2 linked regions of the Homo sapiens genome follow. The protein of the gene in region 2 interacts with the protein of the main gene of each other region in a pairwise test. Each region holds a gene or a part of one and is shown on either strand. Other genes may lie near its edges.

What was found. Proteins that work in one complex are often made in the same cells at the same time.
Region 1: the proteins of EGR2 (region 2) and RIMKLB interact in a two-hybrid assay, tested with the Homo sapiens proteins (one large-scale study listed by BioGRID and IntAct).

The regions. Positions count from the first base shown.
Region 1 is NC_000012.12:8,704,491-8,707,990, reverse strand, and holds part of RIMKLB (beta-citrylglutamate synthase B), read right to left. Parts: intron 1-3,500. UniProt on the Homo sapiens protein: Catalyzes the synthesis of beta-citryl-L-glutamate and N-acetyl-L-aspartyl-L-glutamate. Beta-citryl-L-glutamate is synthesized more efficiently than N-acetyl-L-aspartyl-L-glutamate.
Region 2 is NC_000010.11:62,813,567-62,817,498, forward strand, and holds the start of EGR2 (E3 SUMO-protein ligase EGR2), read right to left. Parts: upstream 2,801-3,932; 5' UTR 2,464-2,800; coding exon 2,295-2,463; intron 903-2,294; coding exon 1-902. UniProt on the Homo sapiens protein: Sequence-specific DNA-binding transcription factor.

The DNA.
Region 1 (3,500 bases), on a different chromosome or scaffold from region 2:
TTATTCCATTTGTCAGTTAATACAGGCTTGCTTCGGGAAAGACTGTACATAGGATAAAAAATAATAATACTAAAGACTTGTTTTCAACACTATCCCCTCTTGGATAGGAATCACGGGAGTTGAATCAGGTTTGTGGAGAAAAATAACAAATTTGTGTCTCTTAAAAGTGTGATATTACAAAATATATACTTGGTCTTCAACCCTGTTTCCTGGCATACAACTCCTAAAATCATAAGAATCTCCAAAATGATGTCTTTCTGTATGCTAATAATTGACTGATGGCTGGCAGCCCCTAGGCAGCTTTAGTATGGAGGCTGGTCACCAGAAAGACCAAGGCATGATTAGAGGGTTGGAACCTTCCGTCTCATCCCCTAACCTCTGGAGACGGGAGACGGGCTAACAGTCAAGTTGATCACCAGTGGCCAGTGGTTTAATCAATCATGCCTGTGTAACGAAGTCTCCAAAAAACCCAAAAGGATTGGGCTCAAAATGCTTCCAGATAGCTGAACACGTAGCAGATCCTGGAGGGTGACGCACCCAGGAAGGGCAAAGAAGCTCCGTGCCCCTTTTCCATACTTTGCCCTAGGCACCTTTTCATCTGTATCCTTTATAACATACACGTAAACATGTTTCCCTGAGTTATGTAAACTGCTCTAGCAAATTAATCAAACCCAAAGACAGGGTTGGTGGGAACTCCAACTTAAAGCCAGTCAGCCTTCTGGCTGAAGTCCAGAGGCCTGTACTGGTGGGGGGCATGGTACGGGGTCGTTTTGGCAACTGAGCACTTAACCTGTGGGAGACAGTGTCAGAAATTAGAGGACACCTAGCTGGTGTCCGTTGCAGAAATGACTGTTGGTGAGGAGAAATCTCCATCAGTGGATCTTCTGTGTTGATTGGTGTTGCTGAAAGAACAGGAAAAAGCACATTGAATGTTGTTTTTCCACGCTCTCTCATTAAATTTTAGGTATGCTATCAAGCCTCTTTTTCTGTGACTTTCCTCCTGACATCTCTCCTTCTGCATATGATCCCCCGAGTTTCATTCTTAAACTCTGCTTTCCACTTTCTAGAAATGTCATCCGAATCCAGGTTTCAACTTTATTCCTTCTGAACCACTGACCCACTAGATATTTCTTTCTCAACTAAATTTCAGAATCCATTTCAATGAGCCTACTGGGCATCCCTAACTAAATGCCACCCACTGTTGCCTCAGTTAAGCATGTTTTTTAAAACAAAAAAAGGACAGGCATGGTGGTTCATGCCGGTAATCCCAGCACTTTGGAGGGCTGAGGTGGGCGGGATCACCTGAGGTCAGGAGTTTGAGACTAGCCTGGCCAAAATGGTGAAACCCTGTCTCTATTAAAAATACAAAAAAATTAGCCGGACGCAGGGGTGCACACCTATGGTCCCAGCTACTCAGGAGGCTGAGCCAGGAGAATCGCTTGAACCCAGGAGGCAGAGGTTGCAGTGAACCAAGATTGTGCCATTGCACTCCAGCCTGGGTGACAAGAGCGAAACTCAGTCTCAGGAAAAAAAAAAAAAAAAAAAAGTCCAGGCGTGGTGGCTCACACCTGTAATTCCAGCACTTTGGGAGGCCGAGGCAGGTGGATCACCTCACCTGAGGTCAGGAGTTCAAGACCAGCCTGGCCAACCTGGTGAAACCCCATCTCTACTAAAAATACAAAAATTAGCTAGGCATGGTGGTGGGCACCTGTAATCCCAGCTACTTGGGAGCCTGAGGAAGAGGAGTCACTTGAACCCAGAAGGCGGAGGTTGCAGTGAGCTGAGATCGCACCATTGCACTCCAGCCTGGGTGACAAGGGCAAAACTCCGCCTCAAAAACAAAAAACAAAACAAAGAATGTATTTTTATTCACAGAAATGTTTCAGCACCTATATTCCCCATTGTGATCATTAAATTTTACATCAACCTGGTGAGGCAATGGTTCCAAGCTATTTGGGCAAACAATAGTCTATACATTGCTGAAGGTATTTTCTATACGTGATTAACATCTAATCAGTTGACCTTAAGTAAAGGAAATTACCCTCCATAATGTGGAGGGGCTTCATCCAATCAGTTGAAGGTCTTGCTAAAAAGTAAAAACTGAGGAGGAACTCTTCCTCAAGACTCAGGACTTATAGACAGACTCACAGAAATGCTACCTGAGTTGCCAGTCTGCTGGTCTCCCCAAAAATTTCAGACCCAAGACTGCAACATCAAGTCCTGTCTGAGTTTACAGACTGCTGCTTACTCTACAGATTTTGAACTTAGCAACTCCGCAATCATAAGCTAAATGCTTAAAATACGTATACAATTAAAAATACATATATAAACATATCTTATTGAGTCTATTTCCCTGGAGAACCCTGACTGATATACCTATCCTTATTAAGGCACTCGATTCAGACAACTGGGCATCAATTTTTATTTCCATCCTTCTTTCACTGTTTACAAAAAGCTAATTCTAACTTCTAAATATTAATATCACCGGCATTTTACTTTTTTTTTTTTTTTTTTGAGATGGAGTCTCAATCTGTCACCCAGGCTGGAGTACAGTGACGTGATCTTGGCTCACTGCAACCTCTGCCTCCCGGGTTCAAGCGATTCTCTTGCCTCAGCCTCCTGAGTAGCTGGGACTACAGGCGTGTGCCACCACACCCGGCTAATTTTTGTATTTTTAGTAGAGATGGAGTTTCGCCATGTTGGCCAGGCTGGTCTCGAACTCCTGACTTCAAGTGATCCTCCTGCCTTGGCCTCCCAAAGTGCTAGGATTACAGGTATGAGCCACCATGCCTGGCCCACTTTACTCTTATCTCCAGTATATTCAACACTTGGACTACTATAAAAGCCTCCAAATAAATCTTCTGCCCTCTGTCACTTCCAATTTTCTAAACACATTATATTCGTCCATGCTTCCTGTTGCTTGGAATATATACCCCAAACACTTACCTATTTAGTAAAGTCTGAGCTCAAATGGTTTTAGTTTGGGGTTTTGTGTGTGTGTGTGTGTGTGTGTGTGTGTTTTAGAGGTGAGGTCTTGCTCTGCACCAAGCCTGCAGTGACGCAACTGCAGCCTTCAATCTTGGGCTCAAATAATCCTCCCACCTCAGCCTCCCAAGTAGGTGGGATGACAGGTATGTACCACCACACCCAGCTAATTTTTTCCTCTTCTTTTAGAGGCAGGTTCTCACTATGTTGCCCAGGCTGGTCTCAAACTCCTGGCCTCAAGCAAAATTCTCCTGCCTCAGTCTCCCGGATAGCTGGGATTACAGGCATGAGCCATGGCTCAAGTGTTAATGCATTAGTTAAATAACACATCCTCCGGAAGAATGACTTTAGGAGTCAGGGAACACTTAACAGACGTGCTAACATTTGCACCCAAGCCATTATCATAGCATATAATTAAGGTTTACTTTTAAAAACTAGGGTCTGCCAGTGCTATAAGATGAATTCTTAAAGTCTATGTTTAAACAATTCTATTTGTTACAAAGACAATTTCTCTT
Region 2 (3,932 bases):
CAGCTCGTCAGAGCGGGAGAACCGCCGGTCGCAGCCTTCTGCTGGGCACGGGTAGGGCCTCTCGTGCACCGGCGTCTTGCTGGGTCTGTTGGGGTACTTGCGAGGCCTCAGAATGGGCCGCAGTGGCAGGTGGTGTGGGTTATAGGCGGCGGCGGCGGCGGCTGCTGCTGCTGCTGAGCTGCTACCAGGCAGCCGGGGTCCCTCGCTGCCTCCACTGGCCCCTGGTCCGGTCACCCCAGCACTGGGGCCCCCCAGGGTAAAGTTACGGATTGTAGAGAGTGGAGTGAGTGGAGGGGGCACCCGCAGGGTGTCCAGTGGGCAGGGAAAGGGCTTACGGTCTGGGCCAGCTGTACCATGTAGGTCTCTCTGGCACTGAGATGGAAAGAATCCAGGATAGTCTGGGATCATTGGGAAGAGACCTGGGTCCGTGGCTGGCTTGGGGGATGGATAGGAAGGAGGTGGTGGGTAGGCCAGAGAGGAAGAGGTGGAGGTGGTGGCTGCTGACAGGAACGCAGAAGGGTCCTGGTAGAGGTCTCCTGCACAGCCAGAATAAGGAGGAGGAGGCGGTGGCGGAGAGTACAGGTGGTCCAGGTCAGGCTGGGTCTGGGACATGGTGCACACACCCAGGGGTCCTGTGGCCAGTGGGTTGGGGGAGGCAGAGGTGACGCTGGATGAGGCTGTGGTTGAAGCTGGGGAAGTGACCCCTTGCAAGATGCCTGCACTCACAATATTGATTATGCCTTCTGGGTAGCAGCTGGCACCAGGGTACTGAGGGTCAATGGAGAACTTGCCCATGTAAGTGAAGGTCTGGTTTCTAGGTGCAGAGACGGGAGCAAAGCTGCTGGGATATGGGAGATCCAACGACCTCTTCTCTCCAGTCATGTCAATGTTGATCATGCCATCTGGGGAGGGGAAAGGCAGAATGGAGGTGGAACAATGAAAATACAGCCAGGACTCCCTTCTCACCCCCGCTCACATAGGTCCATTTCCAAGGCCGAGAGTCTCAGCACTGTAGAGCTGTGGCAAAGTCCAAAAGGTGGGGAAATTGAGGCCCACAGACTGTAAGAAGAGGCCAGCCCAACTGTGGCAACCCATTGACAGTATGGAACTCAAGAACTACCTCCAAAAAAGCAGAATGAGCTTTTCCCAACTCCCCTCCACCCCCAGCCATCTGTGGCTCTAGTCCCCAATAAAAAACACCCAATAATAGCAACAACAATATTTTAAAAAGCCTCATCCGCCCGGAGCTTTTCTCCCTCTTTTTTGCCTGGGGGTTCCACGGCTGAGGCACCAAGACAAACACCACCCAAGAATCGACCTATCCCAGTCAGTGCCGTGATGGTGCCAAACCGAGAGGAGAGCCCGAGAAGGGGGTGGGTGATTTCCCGGCTGCTCCCCATCCCCGGCGCCTTGTGCCTTTTTCTCCCTCCCTCTCCCGCTGCGCTTCAGCCGAGGGCTGCTGGAGCGAATGGGGGATGTAGAGGAAGGAGTCCGTAGGTTTCCGTGCCCTCCCAATCTTCTCCGCCTTTCCCGACAGCCGCGCGTCCCCGCCTCAGCCCAAGGCCAGTGGCCCGGCCTCGAGGAAGGCGCGGGGGCCGCGAGAGACGACTTTCCACAGCATCGCCAAGGAAACCGGCGTCGCCGGTGCCCCCGCGGGCCTCCCTCGGCAGTCCGGGGGCTGCTTCCCGCCGTTGCGCGCCCTCCTCCACCACCCACTCGCTGCCTCCGCCGGCCGGAGCCCCCGCCTTACTAACCCCCTCAACTTCGCGGGCGGCGGGCAGGTGGGGGCGCGCCTCCAGGCCGCAAGAAGGGAGCGCTCCGAGATTTTCCCGGGGTCGGCTCTGCCCAGGAGGGAGCTACCGACGCTTTCCCCTGGCGCTTCTCCGCCGCTCGGCTCTCCAGGCGCGCAGCTCTCCCCGAGAGCCCCGAACTTTACCGTCACTTTGCCCCTGCCCCGGGAGAGGGGAGGTCGAAGTGCTGCCGGCCAGAGGGCCTACGCAAGCCTCGAAACCCGGGGGGACGCCTCTTCCACCCCCATCCCTGCGCTCGCCCGGGGCTGGGCGCGCCGGGGCGCACGCACGCCGGTTTGCTGGCGACCTGGCGCATCTGCCCGCGCGCCCTGGTCTCAGCTGTCGCAGGTTCCTCCTGCACCCACTTCCAGTCTTCAAAGCCAGTGCAGTCAGCACCGTCCACCTGGAGCCCCAATCCTCTCCTGCGATTCCCGCACACCCACTGCACCCCATCCACCACCTCCGGGCCGCGCAGGTCCGGGCCTGCGAAGACACGCGGCTTACCTCCGGCCACTCCGTTCATCTGGTCAAAGGGGCCTCCCAGTTCGGCATTGGGAAAGATGGTCACCGACGTGGCGGCGAGGTCCTCCACCGGGTAGATGTTGTCAGACAGCTGGTGCACAAAACCACTGAGAGTTACTGGGATTTTGTCTACGGCCTTGGCGGTCATCATTTGCTCCTCGCACAACCTGGAGACCCAACTCCCTCGCTACCTGGAGTGTCAGAAAAGCCGTTTTGGAGAGGGGTTGGACTGAGCCTGGGATGGTATCTCCTTTTGCCCTCCACACTTAAAAACAACCACCACACACACCAAGAAAAAAAAATCAACAGAAATAAAAGTAGCAAACAAGTTGCTGTTTTTTAAGAAATAAGAAAAATGTCTATTTGCCACTGACTCTCTCCTGTCTGTGTTCCGGCTGCTGGGAAGCCAGGAGTTGCTGGTGTAGTGTTATTATAACAGTCAGTGAGTCCCCTCGCCGAGCTATTAATCAATTGCTCCTCGCTCAGTTAGACGGAAAGTGTTGCTCTAAGTATTTATGGGCAGGTCTTCAATACCCGTGACGTCGCTGCCCATATATGGACTGAGGAACAGGGCTGGGCCAGGCGGCTTTTGCCGTCACATGGCTGATTTGCATACACGGGCTCGGCCGCGCGGACTCCGCCGGGCTCGCGACTTCCAGCTCGCAGGCGGCGGGGATCGCTGGGGTCCCGGGCGCGCGGCCCTAGCTGCAGCCTGGGTCCGGGGCGCAGGGATCGCGGGGGAGAGGGCGCGCCATGGACCCAGTCACAGCCACAGCAGGAGAGCGAGCTGCTCCAGGCTGCGGCTCAGCCTCCCGGGGCGGGGAGGAATTCCGGTTCTCTGGGACTTTCCAAAAAAGGCGAAGATCCGGTGCCGGCGGCTCCGCCTCCCTAGCCCTTGTTTGGGAGCCATTCCGGAAAATTAAACTTCGGAAAGAAACCGAGCGGAGCCGAGACACTACAGTCAAACCCCTACTCACTTTCTTGGCAGCTCAAAACCGCAAGCAAAAGGAGGCAGCGAAGAAAAAAAAAGCTACATGCATTCACGGAAGCTGACTGCTTTTTTCTGAATTACTTGGTGGAAAGAAGTGGCTGGTGATAAGAGTGAATGCGTATTGCTTTTTTGGAAAGTCTGTTCTATTTATACAGGAGCGAAAACGGAACAGGTTTGGGTTGTTTGTTTGTTTAAGTATTTTGGGCACCTTGGGACTGGGAGGGTAAACCCTAGGAGGAGCAGAATTACTGTGGGGAGCTTCGAGAGAAATCCTCAGCCGGAGACACCCTCCTTCCTCTGCCCGCGCGCTCCCCGCCCCCCTTCAGCTGCTGCGCGGAGCGGGCGCCCTTCCCGGCGCGTCTGGGCGGTCGGCTGCGTGGGGGCGTCCAGATGGAAGCTTGGACACTCACCCTGCCCCTCCAGACACACATACACACACACTCACACTCGCTCCACTTCCGCTACACACTCCCGCCCCCGCTGCCCTCTTCACACACCCGCTCACACACCTTACACTACACACCTCCCTGTTGACTGCGTCCGCGCGCCGTCGTTGCCAGCAGTGTCCCGGCGGCAGAGCGGGCTCCGGGCTCGCTGGACAGGAGGTTCTATGAAGACACTGGCCTAAC